Homo sapiens: one gene and its partners. The protein of the gene in region 5 purifies or fractionates together with the protein of the main gene of each other region. This does not show direct contact. Each region holds a gene or a part of one and is shown on either strand. Other genes may lie near its edges. The genes, in order: MIEF1, DRC1, CSDE1, DROSHA and ZNFX1.

Region 1 (5,976 bases), on a different chromosome or scaffold from region 5:
GCCATAAGTACTGGGACCCCAAGAACCTCCCTCCCCTAACAAGCCAAACCCCAACAAGTACAGGGTACTCTGTGAGTTCCAGCAACCCAAATCTTCTTGCCTCCAGCACTGCATGCTTTAGGGTCTGGAGGGAGCTACAATGTCCCATGATAGATCAGGATGCAAGGAGGAGGGGCTGATCTTGGGTATTGTAGGAAAACTTTCCCCAAGCTAGTGAGATTAAGAAAGCATTAAGCTCAGTGTCAGTCCTTTTTTGTATTACAATGAAGTACCCCACCATGCAAAACAGCCCTCTCTCTGCCCCTTTACAATGTTAAAATGCAGGTCTCTACCCCTTCACAATGTTATAATGCAGGTCTCTACCCCTTCACAGGGGTTATAATGCAGGTCTCTACCCCTTCACAGGGGTTATAAAGCAGGTCTCTACCCCTTCACAGGGGTTATAATGCAGGTCTCTACCCCTTCACAGGGGTTATAATGCAGGTCTCTCTACCCCTTCACAGAGGTTATAAAGCAGGTCTCTCTACCCCATCACAGGGGTTATAATGCAGGTCATTTCTTCGTCCTTTGGCCACTACTTTGTGGAAGGTTAGATCTGAGCGGGACCTTGGAGCTCATCTAATGCCATCACATCACCTCACACAGAGGTTCTCAACATAGGGAGGTGATGTGTCAGGTCTCAGAGAAAAGAAATGGTACAGGCGCAGTGGCTCATGCCTATAATCCTAGCTACCCGGGAGGCTGAGGTGGGAAGATCGCTTGTGGCCAGAAGTTCAAGACCAACCTGAGCAACATGGCAAGACCCCCATCTCCAAAAGTAAAAGATAAAAATAAATTGAGCATGGTGGCACATGCCTGTAGTCCTATCTACTTAGGAGGCTGAGGCAGGAGGAATGCTTGAGCCCAGGAGTTTGAGGCTACAGTGAGCTATGATCACGCCACTGCACTCTAGCCTCAGTGACAGAGTGAGACCCCATCTCTTAAAAATAAAAATAAAAAAACAAAATGGGCCGGGCACGGTGACTCACGCCTGTAATCCCAGCACTTTGGGAGGCCGAGGCAGGCGGATCACCTGAGATCAGGAGTTCAAGACAAGCCTGGCCAACATGGAGAAACCCCGTCACTACTAAAAATATAAAATTAGCCAGATGTGACAGCGCATGCCTGTAATCCCAGCTTCTCAGGAGGCTGAGACAGGAGAATCCCTTGAACCCGGAAGGCGGAGGTTGCAGTGAGCCGAGATCACACGATTGCACTCTAGCCTGGGTAACAAGAGCTAAACTCCGTCTCAAAAACGAAAACAAAACGACACAGTCATCTCCAGAACTCAGGACTCCCCACTCCTTGTATGACGCTTTTTCTACTGTACCATGCTCACCCTTACCCAAATCAAATCGGCCCTTATTCTATCTACTTTCTGCAAACAAAACACAAAACAACATGTACCAAACATCCTGCACACGGAACTGAAACTACACGTCCATATGTGAGAAAGGTCCCTCCATGGACCCTCCTACTTGACAAATGCTTTGTTTCTTGAGAGAAGTGCGCAGCGGGGACTATAAAAGCTTAGGTGAGACTGGTATACCGGGAGATAAAAAACACAAAGGACACTGCAGACTCGACTGCTAACTGGAAAACAAAACACCCATCTGCTCGATTACACCTGGAAGAGGAACTAAAAATGTGTTCACCTGAAAGAAGTACTTGGGCACCACAGCGAAGAGGCTGGCCTCCAGTGCAGTGCTCAGGCCAGTGCTGCTCCCGACTACAGTGGAGTCTTCCTGACTGCAGCAGCAGCAGTCCCCAGATAAGCCCATTCCTGTGGAGTTAGAACCCTGGGCCTGAGCCGGATAAAGGATGACAGTGTGATTCAGATCGGAATACCACTCAGCATGCTGCCACTCTCCTCTATAATATCCCGTGTCCTTCACACCAGGAATGACATAAGGGAAAACAAAGTCGGATACCATTTAGCGTCCCAGAATGGGAGGACATCAAGAGACAGGATCAGCCGGGCGCGGTGGCTCACACCTGTAATCCCAGCACTTTGGGAGGCCAAGGTGGGTGGATCACGAGGTCGGAAGTTCAAGACCAGCCTGGCCAACATAGTGAAACCCCATCTCTACTAAAAATACAAAAAATTAGCCAGGCATGATGGTGCATGCCTGTAATCCCAGCTACTCGGGAGGCCAAGGCAGGAGAATCACCATTGCACTCCAGCCTGGGTGACAGAGCAAGACTCCGTCTTGAAGAAAAAAAAAAAAGGATCACTGAGGATTATCTTCCATGTAAAATAACATTCCTTCTAATACCGTGTTACAAGTGGATATTTCTAGCTTCCACATCTTACGCTCCTGCCTCTACCTCCCTGAAAAACAAAGAAATATTTCTGACTCTATTATTCCAGTAATTGAGTTAACTAAGAGTCACTGTCAAGCCCAAAAATATTTTTTTCCCTAACTAGAGTTCACACCTTGGGGGTACTTTCCTTTTCTCTACCATTTACAGTCAATAGAGGCTTCAGGTTTAGGGACATGAAAGACTATTTCGCCAAACCGAGTACATTCCCACCTCAAATGCACAGAGCAAAGCCAGGGAGAAGAGATAACGTTTGTATTTACAGGTGGAATCAGGGAAGAACAGCAGACACCCTCTCTCCAGTGGCCACTGAGATAGAGACGGGACAAACCAAACTTAGCAGAGGCAAGATAACCCAATCAGGAGAAAAGCAGAACACTATACATTTCCCCACACATAACAATGTCTCTTGTTTTAACTCTTTACTGAAATATTTACAATAGGGAGAGCCACTGGACACATGTGCCCTCTAAATGATCCTTGAGTGTGATGCAGCAGGGCCAGAAGGGCACCTCCTCACTCAGGGCAGAAGCAGCCTCCCTGGACCATTTTAGTCCTTGGTGCCCTTCTGATGACTGGTGAGAGCAAGGTGGTGCTACAGATGACAGAACAGAGCGTGGGTTTTAGAGTCAGAAATCCTGAGATACAGAACTTGCCTTGAGCCCTGACTTATTAGCTGGGTGACCTCAAATGAGTTACTTAACACCTCAGCTACGAAAAGGGGATAATGGTCCCCGCGTGGGACCAAATCACAGGGTTGTAGTGAGGAAAAACCATTCACTGCAATCCTGTATGTGAACGGTATAAACTGTATTGCAGTGGATGGTCTATAAACTGTAAAAGTGCTCCACAAATGAGTTCTCCTCTAGTCTTTTAAGATTTCCATCCACAGGACAAAGGTCAGCTTCCAGAAGTCAGTCAGCAACCCAGACTGTCCTCTGAGTGACAGTGCACCTTTTGAGACTGCTCTAAAACGGCCTTGAAAATTCGCAGTGATGCCATCTTGGACTTGAGATCAAAACTATTTTTTCTTTTTTTTTGAGACTGAGTATCACTCTGTCACCCAGGCTGGAGTATAGTGGGGCAATCCCGGCTCACTGCAACCTCCACCTCCCAGGTTCAAGTGATTCTCCTGCTTCAGCCTCCCTAGTAGCTGGGATTACAGGCATGAGCCACCACACCCTGCTAATTTTTTGTATTTTCAGTAGAGACAGGGTTTCACCATGTTGGCCAGGCTGGTCTCGAACTCCTGACTTCAGGTGATCTGCCCACCCTGGCCTCTCAAAGTGCTGGGATTACAGGCGTGAGCCAACAGCTGAGATCAAAACTATTAAGTTGGGCCAGCTTGTTAAGCCTTTTCGGCCGGGTACGGTGGCTCACGCCTGTAATCCCAACACTTTGGGAGGCCAAGGTGGGCAGATCACGAGGTCAGGAGATCGAGACCATCCTGGCTAACACGGTGAACCTCTGTCTCTACTAAAAACACAAAAAATTAGCCAGGTGTGGTGGCAGGCGCCTGTAGTCCCAGCTACTCGGGAGGCCGAGGCAGGAGAATCGCTTGAAGTCGGGAGGCAGAGGTTGCAGTGAGCCAAGATTGCACCCACTGCACTCCAGCCTGGGTGACAGAGCAAGACTCCATCTCAAGAAAAAAAGGCTTTTCCTACTGTAGTGCAATAGGCACCCCCCGCCCACCATCCAAGGACGGACTGACATCACAGACCTGGTGACCTGGAACAGAAGACGGCATCCACAAGCTCAACAGACAGACACGGACCTTACTTGAAAAGTTAATTCAACTTGTTCCAGTTTAAACTGCTTCTCCATGACACGCTCTCCACTCAGGTTCTGCTGCATAAGCTTACAGCCTACTAGCAGGTAAGAACTCCACCTCCAATCGGGACTGTCATGAAGGAACCCCATTGCTTAATGGGTACAGAGTTTCAGATGTGCCAGATGAAAAGGGTTCTGGGGCTCTGTTACCCAACAATGTGAATATACTTACTACTACTGAACTGTACACTTTAAAATGGTTAAGATGGTTAAAATAAAAAACAAAGAAGGAACACAGACCTGGTGGGCAGAACTAGGGATGGAGAATTTCAGCTCTGCCAATATTTCAGGCAAGTTATTTAACCTGTCTCGCTAGATACAAAAATGGGAACAGAAATGCTCATCACCCTAATATAGTTAAGGATGATGAATAATGGAGGCCTTGCGGCTTCCTAGGATGACAGCACAGAAGTGTGAAAGTTCCAACTTATTTTAATTGAAAAAGCCATAGGCCTTTTTATAAACCTATCTTGCTTGAGTATGTACGAGACTAGGTAGCAGATATTGAGTGTGTATTATGTGCTGGCAATTTTACACTTATTATTAATTCCCTCAATCCTCACAACAACAATCCCATGAGATCAGTAATATTATCCCAAATTTAAAGGATGAAGAAACTGAGTAGTTTCTGTAACTGACCCAAGGTCACTGTGTCAGTAAAGTATGTGACCAAGATTTGAACCCTGAGATCACGCGGTGCGGAGAACTAATCTACAGGGGTCCTAGGTACTTGCTCCACACCTTGTTCCCATCTCCACTCCATTAACCCCCAGACCATATGCTTCTGGGGGACATTTGGGCTCATTCACTGCTGCATCCCCAGGGTGTGCAGTGTTTGATGCATAGGGAGTATATGTTGTGGGAATGAAGTATTAACTCTACGGCGTTTTGTTTCTTGGTTTTTTTGAGGGGGTAGTGATAGCAGCGTGTAGCCCAACTCACAGCCAAAATATATTAGGAACACAAAGATTTCAAGGAACGCCCTAATTCCCTCCTAGATCCGCTAGCCAACCCTCCCTGTGCAGACAGGCTCCCATGGGCATCACCCCACCCCTGGCCCTGTACTGCCAAAGGCAGATATGCCAATCCTAAGTGGCTGAGAAGAACCAAAAGTCATTACATAAGGCTCTCTTCCTACTTTCCCTCCCCCAGTTAAAAGCAGCACCCTCCACCCAGCTGGCAGGCCTTACACCCAGTTACTCTTCATCTTTCTCTCTCCTCCTCCTGCCTCAGCCAACTGATCACCAAGTCCCACTGCTGTACACACTGTGTTTATATGTGGCCACCCCCACCCCTCGGTCCCTCAATCTGATCTGGCTACATCCACTGCCTCTAGTATCTCTCATCAATTTATTCTTCACACTGCCACTGGTATGCTCCCTCTACGATACAAATGTGGCTATGTCATTCCTCTGTTTACAGAGCTGTGATGGTCCCCACATAAGAAGATATACATTACAATCTCAACTTGGAGTCAACGTCCTTCCAGACCAGGCCCAGCCTCAACTCTGGCTATTTGCCTTACAGGGGTACCATGCTGGCCACATCAGACTTAAGTTTCCAGACTACAAAGTGCAGTTTCTGGACAGGCAGAGCTGTTTGAACCTATAATCCCAAAGCTTTGGGAGGCAAGGGTGGGAGGATCGCTTGAGGCTAAGAGTTTGAAAGCAGCCTGGGCAACATAGCAAGACCGTCTCTACAAAAAAAATAAATAAATAAAAAATTAGCTGAGCACATTGGTACATGCCTGGCGTCCCAGCTACTCAGGAGGCTGAGAAGGGAGGA
Region 2 (5,976 bases), on a different chromosome or scaffold from region 5:
AGCCAGTTTTAGAAAAATATGTAGACTATAATACACATTTTCTTTTTAAAACAGGCTTGGCTGGGCGCGATGGCTCACGCTTGTAATCCCAGCACTTTGGGAGGCCGAGGCGGGTGGATCGCGAGGTCAGGAGATCGAGACTACCCTGGCTAACACGGTGAAACCCCGTCTCTACTAAAAATACAAAAAATTAGCCGGGCGTGGTGGTGGGCGCCTGTAGTCCCAGCTACTTGGGAGGCTGAGGCAGGAGAATGGCGTGAACCCGGGAGGCGGAGCTTGCAGTGAGCCGAGCCGAGATAGCGCCACTGCACTCCAGCCTGGGCGGGAGAGCGAGACTCTGTCTGAAAAACAAAAACAAAAACAAAAAACAGGCTTATATGTGCACAGGACATTTTCTGGAAGTATATATGACAAACGAATAACAGCAATTACTTAAAGAACAGGAATTAAATTACTGAGAAGTTCTATTTTCTACATTTTTGTATTGCATGAATTTTCTAAATAGTGCATGTGTGTGTGCTTGTCTGTGTGTGTGAATCAGAAAATGAGACTAAAGGGGCGGTGGCGAGATAAAGTTCCAGATTATAGACTTCTTCAGGGGAGGCATGGGGGAGTGACCTCACCAACCCCCACGCCACTTACATCATCAAGACCCTGCTCTCTCCTCTGGCACACAGTGTCCATAAGGGCTACCAGTACTGCCTTAGGAAAAATGAAACCTCAACATGACACAGCAGGTTTGTTTTTTTGTTTGGTTTCATTTCGTTTTTTGAGACGGAGTTTCGCTCTTGTTGCCCAGGCTGGAGTGCAATGGCGCGATCTCGGCTCACTGCAACCTCTGCCTCCTGGGTTCCAGCAATTCTCCCGCCTCAGCCTAGCAGATCTCTTTATCTCATTCTTTCTTGACTTTTTCTAACTCTGACTTCCATCTCTACTCCCTTTGTTCAAAGTCCAGGACAATCCTACCTAGTGTAACACTATTTTGGAGATACAGAATTGAGTTACCATCCTCCACTCCCAATCTAACCAAAACCCCTTGTTTTTTTCTTGTCATTTCATTGGCTTCCCTATTCTTATTGAACATGCTCTTTGTTTTCTTACCAAGTAAACTAATTGTTCCATTTTACTCAGGTCTTCAGCTATTGCCAGGCTTATCATGTTCCCATCACCACTCAAAAAATTCCCTTGACTTTCTACTTTGACCACCAATTAATGACCAACTCTATTTAAATAATCCCTTCCAAGTGCTTTCTGGATCAAAGATCAGTGCTTCAGAAACAAACAAACAACAACAACAACAAAAAAACCATGCAGTCCAGATATGCTATAATTTTTTTTTTTTTTAAGACAGAGTCTTGCTCTGTCCCCAGGCTGCAGTGCAGTGGAGCCATCTCGGCTCACTGCAACCTCCGCCACCCAGGTTCAAGTAATTCTGCTGACTCAGTCTCCCGAGTAGCTGGGACGACAAACACGCACCACCACACCCAGCTAACTTTTGTATTTCTAGTAAAGATGGGGTTTCACCATGTTGGCCAGTCTGCAGATATGCTATAAATTCTTATTAACTACTATTAACTTAAATCTCATCATTGTCTTTTATGCATCATTTTTTACTGCTTAGCACTGTACTGTCCAATATGGTAGCCAATAACCACATGTGGCTATAAAGCACTTGAAATGTGCCTGGTGCAAATTGAAATGCGCTATGAGTGTAAAATACACTCTAGATGGATTTTGAAGACTTTGAACAAAAAATATTTGCAATATATCTCATCAGTATGATTTACACTGATTGCATATTAAAATAATACTTTTATATATTGGGTTAAATAAATTATTAATTTCACCTGTTCTGTTTTTACCACTTTCAATGTGGCTACTAGAAAACTTGAAATGACATATGTGGCTGATACTGTATTTCTGTTGTTCAGCAGTGTAGAACTAGTATGTTCTCCAAAGCAACTGTTTCAGACTTCTGTCTATTCAGATTTGAGCTCCCTCCCTCCTGGGGGCTGAGTCCTCTTTTGGGAAGCTGTTTCCTCACCACCGCCCCATGTTTGTGGTCTAAATGGGAGCTGCCATCTTGAATACTCTACTTCCTGACCAATTCTCAGGATTTAAAAAAATTGGAACTTGGTTGATTGTCTACCTGGGTTTAGAGTTCTAGGTTGGAAATAACTTTCCTTCACTGCTTCCTTCCAGTGTTGCTAACTGAGAAACCTGAAGTCATTCTGTCTTTATGCCTTTCTTTGTATGTGACCATATTTTTGTTTTTTATATGTGACCATGTTTTTGTTTTGTTTTGTTTTGTTGTGTTTTGTTTTGTTTCACTCTGGAAGCTCGTAGGCCCTTTCTCTTTATTCTCAGTGTTCTGAACTTTCTCAATGGTGTGCCTTAGGGTGGGTCTATTTTCATCCATTGTGCTAGACATTTCAATCAGGAACCTCATGATCTTCAGGTCTGAGACATGTTCTTGAATTCTTTCCATGATAATATGCTCCCTGCTCCATTCTTTCTGGATCTAGAAAAGTGATAATATCTTCTAATTAAAAAAAAATATTTTTCTCTGGCTGGGTGCAGTGGCTCATGCCTGTAATCCCAGCACTTTGGGAGGCCAAGGCGGGTGGATCACCTGAGGTAAAGAGTTCGAGACCAGCCTGGCCAACATGGTGAAACCCTGTCTCTACTAAAAATACAAAAATTAGCCGGGCATAGTGGCAGGTGTCTGTAATCCCAGCTATTTGGGAGGCCAAGGCAGGAGAATTGCTTGAACCCAGGAGGCAGAGGTTGCAGTGAGCCGAGATCATGCCATTGCACTCCAGCCTGGGCAACAAGAGTGAAACTCCGTATCAAAATTAATAATAATAATAATAATAATAATAATAATAATAATATTTTCTCTATAAGTTTCTACCTTTTTTCTTTGCGCTCTATTTTCTAGGTGATTTCATCATCTTTATTTTCCAACCCTTCTAATGTTTTCTATTTCTATAATTTTTTTATTTCTAAGAGCTCTATTTTTTTTCTCTGAACACTCCTTTTAGTAGCATTCTATTCTTGTTTCGTGGTTGCCATATCATCTCTTTTTTCTTTGAGGATCTTTTTTTTCCCTCTTTTTCCCCCAAAGACTTCAAAACTCTCTCTGAGGATCTGAATGATCATCTTTTTGTGGTATTCTTGTTTTTTTCTCCCCACATATAGTCTTAATGTCCTCTTAGGTGCTTTTTTCTCTTTGTTAATTTTCATATCTACCATTCATGTTAAAGACTTTCCTCAGATGCCTAGAAATCCTCAGTTACTGACTCATGACAAGAACTAAAAAGCCTATGAAAAAATTAAAACATGGGTTAAAAATAAATAAACACTGTTTTACGTGGAAAAAATCAAGCTAATGATAAAACAACTCTTATGAGGTAGCTTTTAAAGCTGTTTTCACTTATATCATGTAATTTTAGAACTTTGAGTTCCATTATTCTAGTTGTTGCTGAATGTGTCTATTGCTCTTATTTTCAAAATGTTCTCCAAATTCTTGCCTATCTTGTCTGAGATGTACCAAAGACCTAAAGCTATAAGTATAATGGTAACTTCCATGACAACTTGGGAAAAGGATACTAATACTACCAATTTTACATGTCACCATCTTCACAGTAGCTACCTAGTTGTTGTTAAAGAAACAGCTGCCTTTAAAAAAAAACTACATAAAGGATGGTTTGTTTTGGTTATGTGTACATAAACACACCTGATTATACAGAATCCAAGAATTTAGAGAAAATAAGGACAAATTAGTATCATTTCAATCTAAGTCCCTAGCCATTTGGAAGCTTGTAATATGGTGTCAGGATAAAGCAGAAAAAATAAATTTTAATAGTGTGACAAATAAAAATTTAAACATTAAAAACAAGCTGATGGGGCTGAGCACAGTGGCTCATGCCTGTAATCCCAGCACTATGGGAGGCCAGGGCAGGAGGACCACTTGACCCAGGAGTTTAAGACTAGCCTGGGCAACATAGCAGGACTCCATCTCTAAAAAAAAAAAAAAAATTAGCCGGGCATGGTGGCCTGCACCTGTAGTGCCAGACACTCAGGAGGCTGAGGCAGGAGGACTGCTTGAGCCCAGGATTCAAGGTTATACTAAGCTATGATCAAACCACTGCACTCCAGCCTGGGCAATGGAGTGAGACTCTGTTGCTTAAAAAATAAATAAATAAATAATAAAAATAAATTTTTTTTAAAGCTGACGGGAGCTGTGAGTACAAGGGTGTGGCTTAACAACTGTGCATGTCAGCGTGGGCTGATTTAATCGGGCTGCTTTGTGAGCAAACCCGATGTTAGTGTCTTTATTATTTTTATTTTATTTTATTTTATTTTTGAGACAGAGTCTCCCTCTGTCACCCAGGCTGGAGTGTAGTGGCACGATCTCGGCTCACTGCAACCTCCGCCTCCCAGGTTCAAGCAATTCTCGTGCCTCAGCCTCCCAAGTAGCTGGGATTACAGGCATGCACCACCACGCCGCTAATTTTCATATTTTTAGTAGAGACGGGGTTTTACCATGTTGGCCAGGCTGGTCTCAAACTCCAGACCTCAGGTTATCCACCCCTCTTGGCCTCCCAAAGTGCTGGATTACAGGCATGAGCCACTGTGCCCAGACCAACATTAGTGTCTTTAAATCCTTCTTTTGGGGCTGGTCGGATTCCACAGAGAAACTTCTCCAGCCTCCTGCCTGGAATATGAAGGCTGAAGTGCCACCATTCCAGGAACTGGTGAGAGGAGAGCTGGAAGGTCCTGGCATCCACTGTGCATATTTTCCCTGAATCCCCTTATTTTCCATGAAGTATCCTTGCCTCGCCTCTGTCTAGCATCCCCCAAGCCCTAGATCCTCCGCTTGACTTTCTCCAAACCTCCAATCTTCTGTGCAAAGAGAGAGAAAGGTTCTAGGCATCTACCTATTAATTTTCCAATCGGTTGTCCTTATTTTGGTTCCCTTTGTCACCTCCACTTCTAGATGTCAACTGAAAAAGAGTCAGAATCCACAAAATCAAAAGAGAACTTTATTTCTAAAGGACACAACCTGCAGGCAGGAAGCAAGCTTTCAACTGAGACTGAGAAGCAGGCTTTGAAGGGGAGAAAATAAGGCAGATATTTCTGCTAGGTGAGGAGGTAGGAAACGCATATTCTACAGGATATAGGAGAAGGTTGTGAATATTTACGGAGAAAACTCATTACGCACGTGCATTAGGCTTACATGTGCACGGAACATACAACAATATGCTACTCATGTTCACTTTGGGGTGGAGATTTAACATTTAAATGTACTACAATTGGGTCATAAATGCAAAAAGGTGATGCTTAGGGCACAAGTCCAGGATCTGTGCAGTCTCAGGGAACCGGTCCAAACTGGCCTGAAGTTGGCAGTCGTCCAGGAAGAGGTCTCTGTGGTCCAGGGTTGTTGTCAGGTTGGAACCATAAACATGAGGAGGAGGGTGCCGGGTGGTCGGACGAAGTAAGCCAAGGAGTCTTCTGGCCTTTTGTCATCTTCAGGTCAGCCTTTGATAAGACCTCATAATAATTAGTAAAGGGACGGGGGTAGCAGGAAGTGGACATGTCCAGTCTCCTGTCACTGCTAAGGGCTAAGAACTTTGAGGTCTCTCGGCCACAGAGGTCCTGTCACTCCATTGGAAGGGCCATAGGATTTTTTAAATCCTCACGGATGAATATGATATGCCATCAGTCTCCTAGTCTTTGGGGATTTAGTGCAGAGTAAATCAAGGGGGTTCTCAGCTTTCTTCACTATCAGCTTATTTTTCCATCTTCTTGAATCTGCTCACCCATTTACCATCTATCTTGTGCTTCCCAGCATCCACAATTTCATTGCTGTTGAGTCCTCCTGATCTTGACTTTGTGGATTTGCGTCTTTTTTACTTAATCCCCTTAAATATCATTTTAATGGAGTTAAAATGATAGAGATCTAAGGTAGAT
Region 3 (5,976 bases), on a different chromosome or scaffold from region 5:
TACCTTGGTTTTCTTTTGGTACTAACCAATAATGGATATCCTTGGTGTGGGTAAGGAGGGGCTTTATATACTTCAGTAGGGATATACCTGAGTCATAAAACTTAGATAAATATTTGGCCTTCTTTTTGTTTCGTTTTAGCCCTGGGACTAAAATAAAAGAGAAGGTAATAGTTTGGTTTTGCAGCTGTTCTGGATGTTTACCATCGAGATGATTATTTATAGCAGCTGAGTTGAAAACTAAAGTATTTGAGGCACAGAAGATAGGTTTTCTTTTTTTGTAAGTACTGACTTAAGTGTGACCTTTAGCGAGTGTGGGTGAAAATCTGGTAAAGTCCTAGCAAATCAAAATTGAAAGCGTGAAAGCTGACGTGCAGTCTGGCTTTACCCTCTACCCTTATTTTCCCTTCTCCCCACCTGAAGACACATCGTGTAGGGCCATCGATTTTTGTTTTAAACAAACAAAATGCTAAAATATCAAATTATGCTGGAGCATTCATAACATGAAATTTAGTGTTCCAGTGTTTTTCATTGTACAGTTCAGTGGCACTAAGTCTATTGAAACTGTTGTGAGAGCCATACTTTCGACAAGGTAGTTAAAACATGGAAATTTTGGAACGATGTTCTTTTGGACAGATTTTTGAGGAGTTGAATTTCAGGACTGTATTGCAAAATGAGATAAAAATCTTGATCTTGTTAAGTAAACACAAAGAATTGATGTGCCTTCTTCTTAGCTTTGTCCTTGCAGAAAACAGAAGAGGAAGCACTTTGAGATCTATTTTGTAAGCTTTAATAGCTAGACTGTTGTAAGTGGTGAAACTACTATGGTGAGAGTGACTTGCTGTTAAATCCCTTCTGCCCAGTCAGGATTTTAAAAAGTCCTTTGTTTTGATATTAGAATGTTTTCCACTTGCATGTGTGGGTACCTAGTTAAAAACAACACAAAACTTTTTAATATTTTAATGTCCTTTTATGCTGAGGTAAAACAGTGTGTGGCTGAAAATTATCAGTTTCCCCTATGTTGCACATGTAAGCTATCCGTTGATTTGCAGCTACAGCCGGTACATAACCAGTTATTTGCACTTCTTTTTCTCCAATTTATTAACAACAAGCTTCTATGCTAGATACTGCCTACTTTTATTAGTGAAAATCTTTGCTCAAGACCCTTACATTTACTTCCTGTTGCTAATTGGCACAATAGTGCTTTTTTAGACCCCTGCTCAGTTTATACCTACTCTGTGGAACATGGTAGCCGCCAGCCACGTGTGGCTGTTGTGCACTTGAAGTGTGACTAGTTTGAATTGAAATGTGCTGTGATTGTATAATAACATTGGATTTCAAGGAATGTAACAGTGTCAATTTTTTTACATTGATTGCCTGTAGAGAATAACATTTTGGATATAATTGGTTAAATAAGACGTTTAATTAAAATTCCTTCTGTTTCTTTTGACTGTAATATGGTTACTAGAATTATAATTACACTGTATTTCTGTTGGAAACTGCTGGTCTGTGGTGTTTTCTGATGTGTCTAGAATGTTTCTTCAGCATCTTCCCACACTGCCATTTGTCCTGCTTAAAACTATTAGGTTTCTGGGTGTATATATAAGCAGTTAAGTGATAGATAATTTTAAATATCTCAGTAGCTGTTTAGATAATTAATCCAGCACAGTTGTTACTACACAGATACAAAAAGATAGTTGTGTCAGTTTGATTTTTTATTTTTACTCAACAGATGACTTAGGTTGGTTAATTATCTAGAGTTTATCGTTTACCTTAGATCCTAAAGTAAAAATGAATTAAGACCTATTAAGCACTTCAGTTATAAAATGTGGTGCTCAATGAAATGTCAGGCAATAGAGAAACTTTTCAGTCCTATGCTACCTATTTGGGTCTTTGTTTTTTCCTGCCTAAAAGAAGATACTGCCTAAAGGAAGTGGGTTAGGTGAGCAGACTTTTGTAGACTGGCTTAGCCTTTCATTAACTTTTCCCGAAGTGAGTGCTGCACATACTTTCAAAATAATAAACTAGGTAGTGTGATACATTTTAGATGGATTACTTACCACATAAATGTGTTAGTTTAACCTCTTCATTTAGTGCCGACTATGTCATGGCTTATGCTAGGCCTTTGAGGTAAAACAGCCGAGGAAGACATGAAATAAAACAGGTGGTGGCCAGGTGCAGTGGCTCACGCCTGTAATCCCAGCACTTTGGGGGGCTGAGGCAGGTGGGTCACTTGAGGTCAGGAGTTCGAGACCAGCCTGACCAACATGGTGAAACCCCATCTGTGCTAAAAATACAAAAATTAGCCAGCCAGGCCTGGTGGTACACGCCTGTAGTCCCAGCTACTGGGGAGGCTGAGGCAGGAGAATCGCTTGAACCCGGGAGGTGGAGATTGCAGTGATTAAGTAATAATACTATTTCCATGCTGAGCAAAGGGAAAAGGAGTTGATTACTTAGCACACAGTATGATTCTCAGATACACATTTAAATTGTTCCCTAGTGTTTTTATTGGTACCCTATGGTGGGTTTGTGGGGGCGATTGTTTTGAGTCAGCGTCTTACTCTGTCGCCCAGGCAAGAGTGCAGTGGCACAGTCATAGCTCACTGCAGCCTCAAACTCCTGGATTCAAGTGATCCTCCTGCCTCAGCTTCCCGAGTAGCTGGGACTACAGGTGCATGCCACCACACCCAGTGAATTTATTTTTTATTTCTAAAATTTTTTGTAGAGACAGCATCTCACCATGTTGCCCAGGCTGGTCTCAGACAATCCTCCCACCTTGGCCTGCCACAGTGCTGGGGATTACAAGCGAGAGCCACCACCCCAGCCCAATACCCAGTGTTTCATGCAACTTAAGTTTCAAGCTTTTAGGGGGATGGAGGAGATGCACTTGTGTTCCTAGGGTTAAGGCAAAAGAGGTGGTTAGTAGCACCAATTAATGTTAATCCGGGCATGAGTGGATAGCTATTTATATTAAACTGCCTGACCAATACCTTTAAGTTCTTCAGTAAGTGTTAATTTAATTGAAAAACATTTAGTTAACTATAGAAGCTGTGAAGATGTTAATTCGGCCAGTAAATTATTCATGACTGTTGGTGGGTTCGTTTGAGCTTTAATAGCTCCTAATAGACCTCATTAGTGCCTAAGAATGGCCCTGCAGTACTCCAGAGTTTCAGTTCCAGAAATCTCTTTTTTTGTGTTACTGAATCTTGGACTTGACAGTTCTTAATGTGATACGACAACCTGGAATGGGTTAATCCAGTTCAAGTGTTTCAAGATAACTTGTTTTCTCCATGTTGAGTTCTTTGGGTTCATTAATACACCTAAAGCATTAAGATAAAACCAATATACACAGTCTGTATTTTTTAAAGAAGAGATTATTTCTTGATTGGATAATTAAAACTATATAATTAAAGGTGGTATAACTGTTTACACTTGAATTGTGGCATAACTGTTTACACTTGAATTGTGGCGTCCTTTTGCTTATTAAGGATTAACTACCTTTTTCCTTTGGTTGTATATGGCAGCACTGGATTAGGTGCGAAAGGAGGCTGTGATAAAGAAATTTGAGTTTACCTCTCAGAAATTTGAAATAGAATTGGAGGAACAAGATACATAAAAACATGAAGTAAACAAAGTACAGAAATTGCTTGGTATCACTTGCTGCAAATTGCTTGGTGCAGGCAGTGGATGTTACTGCCCCATTCATTAGTAGGAATTAATGAATGAGTCTGCTGGAATGGTCAAGAAAGGCTTTTTTGTCACCTTGAAGATCACAACATAGTATTTTTTTGTGGGAAGACCCATATAAGCAAAGGTGGCTAGAATTCAGGAATCTCCCAAGAGTTGTGTTTAAGGATTAGGCGAGGTAATGGACTTCTGGTAGAACTGGAACACAGTAGAGAGTAAGGATGGAAGGTAGAATAGAGACACCTGGAATAGTAGTTCTTAATCCTGGCTGGAAGTCAGAAACACTTGGAGCAGGGGTTGGGGGGAGATAACAAGGCCTGGCACCTAACCTAGTGTAGTTAAATTTAGAATCTTTGTACGGGACTCAGGCTTTGATTTTGTTGGTTTTTGTTTGTTTGTTTGTTTAAGGTTGCTGGGGGTGGGTGGATAGCCAGGATTAAAAACTTCCCATCTAGAATGGTGGAAAAATAACTGAAGATGTTTGACAGGGGAGATGAGAAATGAAATTGGAGAGTTTTTGTTTTGTTTTGTTTTTTGAGACAAGGTTCTGATCTGTCTCCCAGGCTGTAGTGCTGTGTCACTATCTTGTTCTCTGCAGCCTTGACTTCCCAGTCCTAAGTAGCTGAGGCTCCAGGCGTATACCACCATGCCTGGCTAATTTTTTGTATTTTTAGTAGAGATGGGGTTTCTCCACGTTGCCCAGGCTGGTCTGGAGCTCCTGGGCTCAAGCAGACCTCCTGCCAAGGCCTCCCAAAGTGCTGGGATTACAGGCGTGAGCCAACTCACCTGGCCAAAATTCAAGTTTTTGATAGTCTGGTGGTGGTATGTGACAGAAAATGGAAAGTGTGCACACTGGAAGTTGGCGGATATATTAGACACCTGAGCTAAAATATGTCACTTAGTAGGATAAGAGATGAATACAAAAGATATAGCGAGGGAAATACTAACACAACTTGCAACATTGGGTATGGTGATGGAGAGGGGAAGAATCAAGATAGTTAAAGAAGTGGCCCTACCTCAAACCAGTTGTATTACTCTGAGTGGAGGCTGGGCATAGGTTTGTTTTTGTTTTTTTTTTTTTAAAGCTTCCCAAGTATTTGAGCACCATTACCCTGAGACATATATCTAGTCTGGGTAATAGGAGAATGATCTAAATAAAGTTGAAAGATCAGACAAGTGTATGTAACATTTGATATTTGAAGGAACATGGGATGTTAGAGAATAGAAAATGGCCAGATCAGCTGTTATTGAGTTTTTATTTTACATGTGAGGAAAGTGAAACTTAGAGAGATTAAATAACTTGTTCATGGTATTTACTAGTACCAGTGATTGCGATTAGGCTCTTCTGGTCTGAGCTATTTAATCAGCTCTGACCTCTCACCTGATAATCATTCTTCTGATGTTTTCAAATATCCATTTCTCAGCACGTACACCTTTTTCTTATCTCTGTAGAAATAATTTTCGTTAACACCATTTTGTAACTTTGGAGTCAGTGCAAAATTGTTGTTTATTTTATAGCTAATATAAAGCAGAAATGTGATTTTTACTGATAAATAAATTTTATTTCTCTTCTATAGACATTTCTCATCTATTTACTGCAGCAGTGCAAATGAGATTTCTGTTTGCTTACTAAGTCATCTCCTTTAGGATTTCAAGACTTAATACCACTTTCATCAAAAACTAAGGCACTGTTTCCTGTTACATCACGTTGAAATGCTTCATAATCGGGCTCCGCTACACCTGTCACACTACATATCCTATTTCACTTCAGCCCAGCTCTCTGTTCTAGCCAGGCTAGCCTGTTGATTTTCCTCTGAAACAACAAGCCACACATGTTGCCACAGGCATTCATGCAGAAGACTTCACTTGATGCTGGGCTTAGAAAATCATAGAATGCATGGTCGCTGCTCTGAAGAAAGAATTTAGTGGCATATTCTCGCTTGACTTATGTGCTGTTTCATGCCTAGAATACTCAGCTATTTTCTTTCTCCTAGAATTCTGCCTGATTTTCCAGGTTCACTTCAAATTCCACTTATTTAAAAGCCTTGGTTGCTTTGATGGACATGCAGTTGTGGATAAACAATAAATAATATTTCTAGATAGTCTGTGACATAATAGATACCTAGATACTAATTGAGCAAAATAATTTTTGGCATTTTTGTCCTATACTCTGTTTTTTTTTTCCATGTTTACATCTTGTCTTTTCAGCAAGATTGTCTATGCTCTCATGGCAGGGACTTCTTTTATGTTTTCCACAGAGCTAGATCCTTATAAAATACTTGCACTAAATTA
Region 4 (5,976 bases), on a different chromosome or scaffold from region 5:
AACAGTCAAGTAAAAAGACTAGAGGGCCAGGCGCAGTGGCTCATGCCCGTAATCCCAACACTTTGGGAGGCTGAGGCAGGAGGACTGCTTGAGCCTAGGAGTTTGAGACCAGCCTGGGCAACATAGCGAGACCTCATCTCTACAAATAATTTTTTAAAACTACCTAGGCAGGCCAGGCGCAGTGGCTCACACCTGTAATCCCAGCACTTTGGAAGGCTGAGCCAGGTGGATCACCTGAGGTCGGGAGTTCGAGACCAGCCTGATCAACATGGAGAAACCCTATCTCTACTAAAAATACAAAATTGGCCAGGCGTGGAGGCGCATGCCTATACTCCCAGCTACTCAGGAGGCTGAGGCAGGAGAATCACTTGAACCCAGGAGGCAGAGGTTGCAGTGAGCCAAGATCGCCATTGCACTCAAGCCTAGGCAATAAGAGCGAAACTCTGTCTCAAAAAAAAAAAAAAAACTAGCCAGGCATAGTGGGACGCCCCTATAGTCCTAGATACTTGGGAGGCTGAAGCAGGTTTGGCCTGGGAAGTCAAGGTTCCAGTGAGCCGTTATTGCGCCAGTGCACTCCAGCCGGGGCAACAGTGTGAGACCAGGTCTCAAAAAAAACAAAAAAACAAAAAAACCCATATATGGAGGAAGTTTATTTTACGGGGGACAAAAAATGTTCTAAAATTCAATTGTAGGGATAGTTGTGCAACCCCATGAATATACTAAAAAATGCTGGATTATAAATTTGAAGTACAATTGTATCATATGTAAATTATAACTCAACAAAGCTGTTTAAAAAGAAAACCAAGTTTTAAAATGCATTGGCAGTTCTGCAAACATTTCTGCTCAATTCCAAAGAGTAAAAGGAACACACAAAATACATTTCTGCCAGACGTTCTATAAAAAAAAGATGGATAGCTGTCATCTAACAAGAACCAGGAGAAAAGCATTTTAATTAATATAGAATGTTATAAATTTACTCACAAAATATAAATTTTAAATTATCTTTTTACAGATATGCCTTAGCTTCCTAACTTTACATGCATTAAAGATATAATTTTTGTATGTATTATATATCTGTGTGACACAAATCTTTTTTAACAATGCTAATTTTATTATGTATTACTTCATATTAAGACAGTAATTAAAAATAAAAATAATTATGTCCACCTATTATGTTTTTAGCTCAAACATGCTTAACAAGGAAGAGAACTTGTGACTGTTACCAACTAAAAAAAAGAAATCTTATAGGACTTATTTACTATTTTGCAGCAAGATACCTTCCAGGTGAACTACTTCTAAAAAGACCTCCAAGTTCTCTCTCCTCATCCTACCATGTGTCTCCTTCCATCTACTGCAATTTAATGAGGCAGGGCCATTACTCCTCTCCCCAACATGGAATTTACAAACATCATCAAAAATGATTCAAGGGACAGCTGCTCTGGTGCTTATGCTTTGGAACTAACCTGAAGCTGAAAAGAAATAGCTCTGAAGGACAAAACCCTGACAGTAAAATTCAGTTTCAATACTAGGCAACATGTATCTTCTGAGCCCAGAGCAATAACCGTTATGTCTGGGTTTGCAACCTTCACAGCAAGGGCATAAAAACACGCACCTGGCCTGGATCGTTGTACCAAAGTTCATCATGAAGTCGGTCAGGGTGGGCCTTTTTGCGTTTGATTTCTGCAATAACGTCAAAAACTTCAGAGTCTGAGCTGCTAGAACAGGTGCTGTCCTCATCAGACTCACACTCGGATTCACTGGAACTCTCTAACAGGGGTTGGGAGAAAAATACAGAAATTGATGGAATTAACAAACTGGTTTTTTTTTTTCCCTGAGTTGGAGTCTCGCTCTGTCACCCAGGCTGGAGTGCAGTGCGCGATCTCAGCTCACTGCAAACTCCACCTCCCGAGTTCAAGTGATTCTCCTGCCTTAGCCTCCCGAGTAGCTGGGATTACAGGCGCCTGCCACCACACCCAGCTATTTTTTGTGTTTTTAGTAGAGACAGGATTTTGCCATGTTGACCAGGCTGGTCTCGAACTCCTGACCTCAGGTGAAACACCCGTCTCGGCCTCCTAAAGTGCTGGGATTATAGGCATGAGCCACCGCACCCGGCTGACAAACTGGTTTTTGTGGAGGCTTCCAAATGACCTAAACCTCTAAAGGTAAGAAGAGTTCTTTATTCTTCTAGAAAATACTTAAAGGCCTACTCTACACCAAATACTCTACTAAGCAACACCATAAAAAAAAAATATAGCCCATAATGCTAAGTCACAATCTAGTTGGGGAAGCAAAGAAAATAAAGATCTTTAGAGAGAAAGTAAGACTTGATGAGCAATGTCAGATAAAATGAAAAACCATAGTAGTAGTACGTAGTTTAACACTTAAGCTATGTAATGATCCATAAAAGGGCAGTTTCACTGGGATCCAGAAAGGCTGGTGATAATTTCAAAGAAGGAGCACATGTGACCCAGGCACTGCAACAGGATGGGAGAAGCATGATAAGGAGGAGAAAAGAAGAAAGGAATGAAGAGGGAGCATCGTAGGCAAAAGCGTGGAGCTAAGAACACAGTGGACTAGCTAGAGCGCGGGCCACACGGAAAAACACTGGGAGGTTAGGGGCTGGGAGTGCTGGGAATGCCACAGCGAAGGCTGGGAATGCAAGACCAAAGACTTGACATTTCTTTTCCCTCAATAACAGCAAGAGAAGGTGTTAGTCCTTAAAGTGACTGAATAAAAACAGACACAGACTTATGCTAACTGAAATATGCCAGTCACAAAAAGACAAATACTACATGATTCCACATATATGAGATGCCTGAGAGTCAAATTCATAGAGGAAGAAAGTAGCATAGTAGTAATAAGGGAACGGGGGAACTGGGGTCTGGGGAGTTATTCCTTAACAGGTCCAGAGTTTCAGTTTTATAAAAGGAAAACAGTTCTGGAGACTGGTTGCAAACAAGGTCATGTTGAACCCTATTGAACTGTACGCTTAAAAATAGTTAAGATGGTAAATTTTGTATTACTTATATTTTACCACAATTTGAAAAAAAAAAAAAACAGACCTAGAAGTTAGATTAATCCTACATAGTGAGATTCCATCTCCACAAAAAGAAAAATAATTAATTTTTAAAATAAATTAATCCTATAAGAGATTAACATAGTAGTAGCATAATGAAATCCAACATGGAGTTGTATTTACATGTACTGCATGAGATAGATGCTACTGTCTACTGTCATCCCTATTTTACAAATGGGAAAAATCTAAGGAGATTAACCTGTGGCCCAAGGTCACATATCAAGTAGGTGGTAGAGCAGGGATTCAAACCCAAGCCATCCAACTCCCAACTCAGGTGTCTTTGCCCAGTATGGATAACTGCCTCTCAGCGTGTGGGATGTAATGGAGGTGGGCAGATAAGAGCTAGAGAGAACATGTAGCTAAATGCACACTGAATGTCTCATCTGTGCATGGCATTCTGTTAGGGGCTAAGGATACAAAGTGATAAAAAGCAATTTCCATTCTCAAAGATCTCACAACCTACTTGGAACCTCAGAACATACACATGAAAAAATAGACCACCTTATGAAAAAGCTATGCAAACTGTCTACACAAGTGGAGAGAAACCTTCAAACAGAGCTGGGGTACAGTCGCTGTTTCCCTCATCAAACCAGGCGCACCTGGCAAAGGAGAGGGCCAAGGAAGGACACCTGTCCTCATGAGAGGCAGGGGGCATGGGCTCCTGCTCTCGGAAAGATGCTGAACTCTTCTGACTGGACAACTCTCCAAGGGGCACCCTTGTTAGCATGCCTTGCAAATGAGATCGCTGCTGTATTCTGCCAAATGAACTAAGGAAAAATACGATCAAAAAGAAGGAAGTTCTACTGCTATGTATCTTACTGACTGTAATTAAGAAAAATAAAATGAAAAAGAAGAAATCTCAATGTGGGACTCTCAAGGGTATTTCCCCAAAATTTAGGAATGAAGCTATAATCGCAAGGGTCTCAGGCTAGTTAGTGACTCTGACTCACCTAAATCTTCATCGAGCTTCGTCTTTGGAGGTTCCCACGGAGGCCGAGCAGCTTTGGCCTTTTCTTGCCTGCTCCCCAACTCCTCCTCAAATTTGTCATATAAGTCACGAAGCCTACTCGTTCCAACCACTGTAGAATCTCCCTTTTAAAAATAAAGGATCAATATTAGGAACTATATCAATAACGATCATATCAAAGATATGTAAGATCTCACAGGTAATCAAAGCATTTTTAACAGCAAGATGCTATTTTTCAACCCTAAATTTAACAAACATTTAAAAACAAAATGCTCAAGTACTGGCAATCATACTCTGAATCAAACACACACTTATCGCTGACACAGTCTTCAGGTAAATGTGCCTTGCCAACATTCAGAAACATTAGAACAGGCCAGGCGTGCTGGCTCACGCCTGTAATCCTAGCAACTTTGGGAGGCAGAGGCAGGAGGATTGCTCGAGGCCAGGAGTTCAAGACCAGCCTGGGCAACATAGCAAGACCCCACCTCTATGAAAAAGAAAAAAATTAGCCAGGTGGTGTGTGCCTGTGCTACCTGGGAGGCTAAGGCAGGAGAACTGTTTGAGCCCAAGAGTTGGAGGATGCAGTGAGCTATGACTATGACTGTGCCACTATACTCTAGCCTGGGTGACATAGAGAGACCTCATCTAAAAAAAAAAAAACAGAAAAGAAACATTAGAACAGTTCATCTATGCCCTATTAATATGACATTTTTTAAAAAATCATGACCCTCAGAGAATCATGACAACTGACATCAAATACCCTCATAGGGAATGTACACTTCCTACTGAAAATCACTGATAACCTATCTTCTCCTATATCAATCCATCGAGCAATAAGAAATATCCTATATATCCCCTCTCTCTCTCTCTCACACACACGCACACACACACACACACACTCTCATGCCTTAAACACGAGGACATAAACATGCACACACTCTCTCTCACACACACACAAACACATACCACAAACACGGGACTCTGCAACAGATTCCTAGAGAAAATTTTCCACTTTTCCTCACTCAATTTCCAGGTTGAAAATCACTTTACATCTCCACACTCTGACTTAGTAGCCTTAAAATGTAAAAACCAGACCTGTCAAATGTAAAATTAAGGCAAATCATAAAATCTGGTACCCAGAAGAGGGGATAATTCAGGCCCCATCTCATTGTTGGGAGTGGCGATGCCGGTATAGCTTTGACATTCTCACCACCTTCTCTGCACCACACAGACGACAAAACTCAAAGGCAAATGTCAGCCTTTTGAGTTTATCAGTCTTCCTCCTACACTGGAGTTTTAATATACTCATAACGATGTAATAAAAAACAACCAGCCCTGCCTGTTTAAACTCCCTGAACTTCAGTGTCTTCATCTTTATTGTTTTAAGAATAATAACACCTATGGCAGCCATTCTTCCCTTCTTCCTAATAGAAGCAGGATTCTGTAAGATTTGGAGAAGAGAACTCCTGATCTCTGGGAAGGTAGGCTGAGCCACCAGCCCCTCCCAAAGATGTCCATGTCCTAATCCCCAGAAATTAAATATATATGTTAACTTACATGGCAAAAAGGATTTGCAGCTGGGTGGACCCAATCTTAGAACAGGAATCCTTAAAATCAGGGAACCTTTGCCAACAGGGGTCAGAGATACAACAGAAAAAGAGGCAAGAGATATTCAAAACACGAGAAGGACTCGACCACCATTGCTGGCTTCGAAGACAGAGGAAGGGATCCACAAGTCAAGGAATGCACATGGCCTGGAGGAACCAAGAAGTGCCCACACCTGACAGCCAACAAGGACACAAGGTCCTCTGTCCTCCAGACACAAGCAACTGAACTCTGCCAGCAACCTGAATGAGCAAGAAAACAGATTTTCTCCAGAGCCTCCATAAAGGAGCACAGACCTGCTGACATCCTGATGGAGCCAGTGAGGCCC
Region 5 (5,976 bases):
GTAATCCCAGCACTTTGGGAGGCCGAGGCAGGCGGATCACGAGGTCAGGAGATTGAGACCATCCTGGCTAACACGCTGAAACCCCGTCTCTACTAAAAAAATAAAAAAATTAGCCGGGCATGGTGGCGGGCGCCTGTAGTCCCAGCTACTCAGGAGGCTGAGGCAGGAGAATGGTGTGAACCTGGGAGGCAGAGCTTGCAGTGAGCCGAGATCGTGCCACTGCACTCCAGCCTGGGCGACAGAGCAAGACTGTCTCAAAAAAAAAAAAAAAAACTTGTGTCATGGCGGTTTGTTGTACATCACCTAGATATTAAGCCTAGTACTCATCAGTTATTTTTCCTGCTCCTCTCCCTCCTCCCATCCTCCACCCTTCAATAGGCCCCAGTGTGTTGATCCCCTCTATGTGACCATGTGTTCTCATCATTTAACTTATAAGTGAGAACATGCAGTATTTGGTTTTCTGTTCTTGTGTTAGTTTGCTAAAGATAATGCCCTCAAACTCCATTCAGGTCCTCGCAAAGGACATGATCTCATTCTTTTTTATGGCTGCATAGTATTCCATGGTATATATGTACCACGTTTTCTTTATCCAGTCCTTCATTGATGCGCATTTAGGTTGATTAGATGTCTTTGCTGTTGTGAATAGTACAGCCTATAAACTTTAAGGGAATTACTTTTGATTCTTTTTTCTTTTGAGATAGGGTCTTGAGCCCAGGCTGGAGGGCAGTGGCATAATCATAGCTCACTGCAGCCTCGGCCTCCTGGGCTCAAGCAGTCCTCCCACCTCAGCCTCCTGGGTAACTGGGATTATATGTGCATGCCATCACACCCAGCTTTTTTGAGACAGAATCTTGCTTTTGTCACCCAGGCCGGAGTGTAGTGGCACAATCTCCACTCACTGCAACCTCTGCCTCCCGGGTTCAAGCAGTTCTTCTGCCTCAACCTCCTGAGTAGCTGGGACTACAGGCATGCACCACTATGCCTGGCTAATTTTTGTAGTTTTAATAAAGACAGGGTTTCACCATGTTGGCCAGGCTGGTCTCAAACTCGTGACCTCAGGTGATCCGCCTGCCTCAGCCTCCCAAAGTGTTGGGATTACAGGCGCAAGCCACCACGCCCAGTCTTTTTTTTTTCTCTCTTTTTAAAGACATAGGGTCTCACCGTATTGCCCAGGCTGGTCTTGAATTTCTGGGCTCAGGCAGTCTTCCTGCCTTGGCCTTCCAAATTGCTGGGATTACAGGCATGAGCTACCATGCCCCAATCTGCTTTTGATTCTTTGAGGAGACCCAGCCTTCACATTGGTTGTCATAGAATCCTCACAAATGATCATTCTTCTTTCCTTAGGATAGTGAATGGATTTGCTTCCAGCACTGGAAGCATTCCATGATGCTGGAGTGGCTAGGTCTTGGTGTCGGTTCTTTCACGCAAAGTGTTTCTCCAGCAGGACCTGAGAATACAGGTAAGAAGTGCATGTCTTCCTAGAATCAAATCTTAACGTAGAATATAGTAAATACCAGAACAGTGAGACTTAAAAATAATTCCCAGAATAAATAAAGAGCTATGAGTCAATCAGAGAAAGACAAATAGCTTAATATAAGGAAAAGAGATAAAATACTTTTTTTTTTTTTTTTTGAGATGGAGTTTCACTCTTGTTGCCCAGGCTGGAGTGCAGTGGTGTGATCTCGGCTCACTGCAACCTCCACCTTCCAGGTTCAAGCGATTCTCCTCTCCTGCCTTAGCCTCCCAAGTAGCTGGCATTACAGGCAAGTGCCACCACGCGCAGCTAATGAGATAAAAGACTTTTAACAGGCACATCACAAAATAGGAAATTGTTCAATAGATATATGAAAAGTGCTCATTAAAAACTAGAGGAATTAAAACCACAATGAGATAACTATTACTTACACACCAGTTTGGCAACAATTAAAGTTTGATATAACCCCATGTTGATGAGAATTTGAAGCAATGGAAACTCTGATGCACTGCTGCTGGGGATATTTAAATTTACATAACCACTTTATCATAGCAGAAAATCAGAAAGAACTCAAATGTTCATCAACATTTCTTCAATGGATGGATCAATTAAGTCAACTCAGATAATGAAATACTGTACAACAGTGAAAAGGAATGAAACACAGCATATACAGTAACACATATGAATCTCAAAAACATGCTGAATGAAAAAGGCAAGTTAGCCGGGCATAGTGGCCCATGCATGTAATCCCAGCACTTTGCAAGTGCAAGGCAGGAGGATCGTTTCAGCCCAGAAGTTGGAGACCAGCCTGGGCAACATAATGAGACCCTGTCTTTACTAAAAAAAAAAAGGAAAAAGTTTAGCTGGGTGTGGTGGTGCGTGCCTGTAGTCCCAGCTACTTAGGTGGCTGAGGCGAGAGGATGGCTTGAGCTCAGGAGGTTGAGGCTGCAGTGAGCCATGACTGCAATGCTGCACTACAGCCTGAGTGACAGACATAGTCTCAAAAAAAAAAAAGGCAAGTTATGGAAACATATATACTAGACAATGTGTTACTTAGATACAGTATAAATGTGGTAACATTATTATCTTTTAAAAAGGAAATGAGTAATATAAAATTCGGGTTAGGAAGGCTAACAAAGGTCTTCAAAAAATTTGTCAGTTTTCTACTTAAATTGGGTGGAAGGTACTTGGGTATTCATTTTATATATTTTTATTATCCTTTATATTACATATTTACATTGTATGCCCTCCATTGTATATGTATTTGGTATAAGTAAAACCTTTATTTATTTATTGTGTATTTATTTTATTTATTTATTTATTTATTTATTTTTTTTTGAGACTGAGTCTCACAGTCTCACTCTGTCCACCAGGCTGCAGTGCAATGGTGTGATCTCGGCTCACTGCAACCTCTGCCTCCTAGGTTCGAGCAATTCTCCTGCCTCAGCTTCCCAAGTAGCTGGGATTACAGGCACACTCACCACACCCAGCTTATTTTGTATTTTTAGTAAAGATGGGGTTTCCCCATGTTGGCCAGGCTGGTCTTGAGCTCCTGACCTCAGGTGATCTGCCCACCTCGGCCTCCCAGAGTGCTGGGATTACAGGCATGAGCCACCACGCCCAGCCTTATTTATTTATTTTTGAGATGGAGTCTCACTCTGTTGCCCAGGCTGGAGTGCAATGGCACGATCTCGGCTCACTGCAACTTCCACCTCCTGGGTTCAAGTGATTCTCCTGCCTCAGCCTCCCAGGTAGCTAGAAATACAGGCATGCGCCACCACACTTGGCTAATTTTTGTATTTTTAGTAAAGACAGAGTTTCACCGTGTTGGCCAGGCTGGTCTCGAACTCCTGACGTCAGGTGATCCACCCACCTCAGCCTCCCAGAGTGCTGGGATACAGGCATAAGCCCCACGCACAGCCAAAACCTTTCTTTAAAAGGCATATATTCGTATGATTTTTTAACGTAAAACGTAACAAAAAGTATATAAGGAGACCTTAAGCCTTTCCTAACTCTCCTCTCATTCCTTTTAGTTTCTCTTCTCAAAAATAATCACATAGGGCTGGGTGCAGTGGCTCACACCTGTAATCCCAGCACTTTGGGAGGCCGAGGCAGGCCTGAGGTCGGGAGTTCGAGACCAGCCTGACCAACATGGAGAAACCCTGTCTCTACTAAAAATACAAAATTAGCTGGGCGTGGTGGTGCATGCCTGTAATGCCAACTACTCGGGAGGCTGAGGCAGGAGAATCGCTTGAACCCGGGAGGTGGAGGTTGTGGTGAGCCAAGATTGTGCCATTGCACTCCAGCCTGGGCAACGAGTGAAACTCCGTCTCAAAAAAAAAAAAAAAATCACATAAACCCTTGATAATGTCTTCATGCATCTGAGCTCTTGCAGGTGCCGTCTTCTGTCCCTTAGCTTCAAGAGTTTCCATCTCTGGCCAGGCACGGTGGCTCACGCCTGTAATCCCAGCACTTTGGGAAGCCAAGGCGGGCAGATCACGAGGTCAGGAGTTCGAGACCAGCCTGACCAACATGGTGAAACCCCATCTCTACTAAAAATACAAAATTAGCCTACAAAATTAGCCAGGCGTGGTGGTGGGTGCATGTAATCCCAGCTACTCAGGAGGCTGAGGCCGGAGAATCACTTGAACCCAGGAGGCAGAGGTTGCAATGAGCCAAGATCGCACCACCGCACTCCACCCTGGGCAAAAGAGCGAGATTCCATATCAAAAAAAAAAAAAAAAAGAGTTTTCATCTCTCTCCTGCCTGTTTCTCTCTCTTAGCCCAGGCAGAAGGGGATGAGGAGGAAGAAGGGGAGGAGGAGAGTTCGCTGATAGAGATCGCAGAGGAAGCTGACCTGATTCAAGCAGACCGGGTGATTGAGGAGGAAGAGGTGGTGAGGCCCCAGCGGCGGAAGAAGGAAGAGAGTGGAGCAGACCAGGAGTTGGCTAAAATGCTTCTGGCCATGAGGCTAGACCATTGTGGCACTGGGACAGCAGCTGGACAGGAGCAAGCCACAGGAGAGTGGCAGGTAAACTCACTTCCTTGGGTTGAAACAGGCCTGAGAGTGTTCTGACCGCTTGTTTTCCCCCACTTCTGATACAGTATATTCACTTCACCATTACAATTAGCTAAGTACCTGTATTACAGCCTACCCCTGGTATGAGATGGCTTTAGTGATTCCCAAGGATATAAATACGATGGTTCTTCAGAGGGCCTCTGGCAAGAAATGCCAACTTAGAAAGACAGGAAGCAGGTAGCCAAGTGCTTCTGTAGAACTTGTGGAAGAATGTAGCACATATGAGTCAGGTCAAACACGGTCTCAGTACTTAATGCCTTCAGGAGTGTTGTTTTCTCTATTTCAAATGAGTTTGTGAACATGTACTAAGATTTTAGAGGATTAAAGTAAGCAATGAAGCGAGACCTCCAGGCTGGATGGAATATTCCTCCTTCATTCAGCCTGGAATTTGACACTTCTCTTAAAGCCAGAATTGTATGAATGCCCAGGTGTCTTCATGTAGCCTTCCCTCTGCTCCTTTTGGTGGAGCCTAGTAGTCCTCACTGTTTACCATGCATAACTATGATGATCGAGGATTAGATATTCAAAATAAGAATTTGTAAACCTTACCAATGATTTGAGAACTTTCAAGGGCAACTTTGGATGCAGTTTTCATCTGAGTGCTGGCTTTGCACCTGATCTAGTTCAGTTCAGTATCACTATATGTGGTGAGCGGAGTCATGATCTCAATTCTTAGAAGCACAGATTCAGCATCTCTCCCAGGAGGCATCAGGAAAGGTTGATTTGTTTCATTTTGAAGCAGCGGGAAGATCTTTATTTAGTGACATCTGTCTGACTTGCGAGCCTTCTAAAGGCTCATAGCCTCAGACTCAGTGACGGCCAGAAGAGAGCACTTTCTCATAAACAGTGCTTTCCACCACTTGTTAAAGGTACTGTGTTGATACGATGGCAGTAGGACCGTTTTAGCAGGCACTGTGCCAAGTCCTGTGTGAAGCACCAGTTGCTAGGCACTGGTTGTACAGCATTCAACAAGAAAGTACCACCCCCATGACTTTCATGGCATGCATTTTAGGAACAAGAAACAGGCTATGGTCAAAGATGTTTAATGATAACTAGTGCTAGTACTAGTATAAATGCTTTCCACGTATTTACTCCTGACAAGCCAACAATCCTATAAAGAGATACCATTATTATTCCCATTTTATAGAAGGTGATACTGAGGGACACAGAGGTTAGGTCATTTACCTTACTAGGTCCCACAACCTAGTAAGAGGTAGAGTAGGGCTTTGAAGCCAGGCAAACTGGCTCCAGAGTCCTTGTTTAGCCACTCTACAGTGGAAGAGCTGTTGGGAGAATGTAAGACACTTGACATTAATCAGTGATGCCAGCCCTTTTTCTTACGTGCTGTGACCCCTGCCTTGGGCTTAAAACCAAGCCTGCCTCTGCTCAGACAGTACCCTGCCTGGTATTGATGTCTGCAGAC

What was found.
Region 1: the proteins of ZNFX1 (region 5) and MIEF1 purify together in Homo sapiens (affinity purification with mass spectrometry; one large-scale study listed by BioGRID and IntAct). This does not show direct contact.
Region 2: the proteins of ZNFX1 (region 5) and DRC1 purify together in Homo sapiens (affinity purification with mass spectrometry, with the first as the bait; one large-scale study listed by BioGRID). This does not show direct contact.
Region 3: the proteins of ZNFX1 (region 5) and CSDE1 purify together in Homo sapiens (affinity purification with mass spectrometry; one large-scale study listed by BioGRID and IntAct). This does not show direct contact.
Region 4: the proteins of ZNFX1 (region 5) and DROSHA purify together in Homo sapiens (affinity purification with mass spectrometry; one large-scale study listed by BioGRID and IntAct). This does not show direct contact.

The regions. Positions count from the first base shown.
Region 1 is NC_000022.11:39,505,290-39,511,265, reverse strand, and holds part of MIEF1 (mitochondrial dynamics protein MIEF1), read right to left. Parts: intron 1,845-5,976; exon of another isoform or gene 1,695-1,844; intron 1-1,694. UniProt on the Homo sapiens protein: Mitochondrial outer membrane protein which regulates mitochondrial fission/fusion dynamics.
Region 2 is NC_000002.12:26,407,164-26,413,139, reverse strand, and holds part of DRC1 (dynein regulatory complex protein 1), read right to left. Parts: intron 1-5,976. UniProt on the Homo sapiens protein: Component of the nexin-dynein regulatory complex (N-DRC) a key regulator of ciliary/flagellar motility which maintains the alignment and integrity of the distal axoneme and regulates microtubule sliding in motile axonemes.
Region 3 is NC_000001.11:114,750,483-114,756,458, reverse strand, and holds part of CSDE1 (cold shock domain-containing protein E1), read left to right. Parts: intron 1-5,976. UniProt on the Homo sapiens protein: RNA-binding protein involved in translationally coupled mRNA turnover.
Region 4 is NC_000005.10:31,507,009-31,512,984, forward strand, and holds part of DROSHA (ribonuclease 3), read right to left. Parts: intron 4,169-5,976; coding exon 4,027-4,168; intron 1,768-4,026; coding exon 1,613-1,767; intron 1-1,612. UniProt on the Homo sapiens protein: Ribonuclease III double-stranded (ds) RNA-specific endoribonuclease that is involved in the initial step of microRNA (miRNA) biogenesis.
Region 5 is NC_000020.11:49,255,946-49,261,921, reverse strand, and holds part of ZNFX1 (NFX1-type zinc finger-containing protein 1), read left to right. Parts: intron 1-1,344; coding exon 1,345-1,459; intron 1,460-4,257; coding exon 4,258-4,505; intron 4,506-5,974; coding exon 5,975-5,976.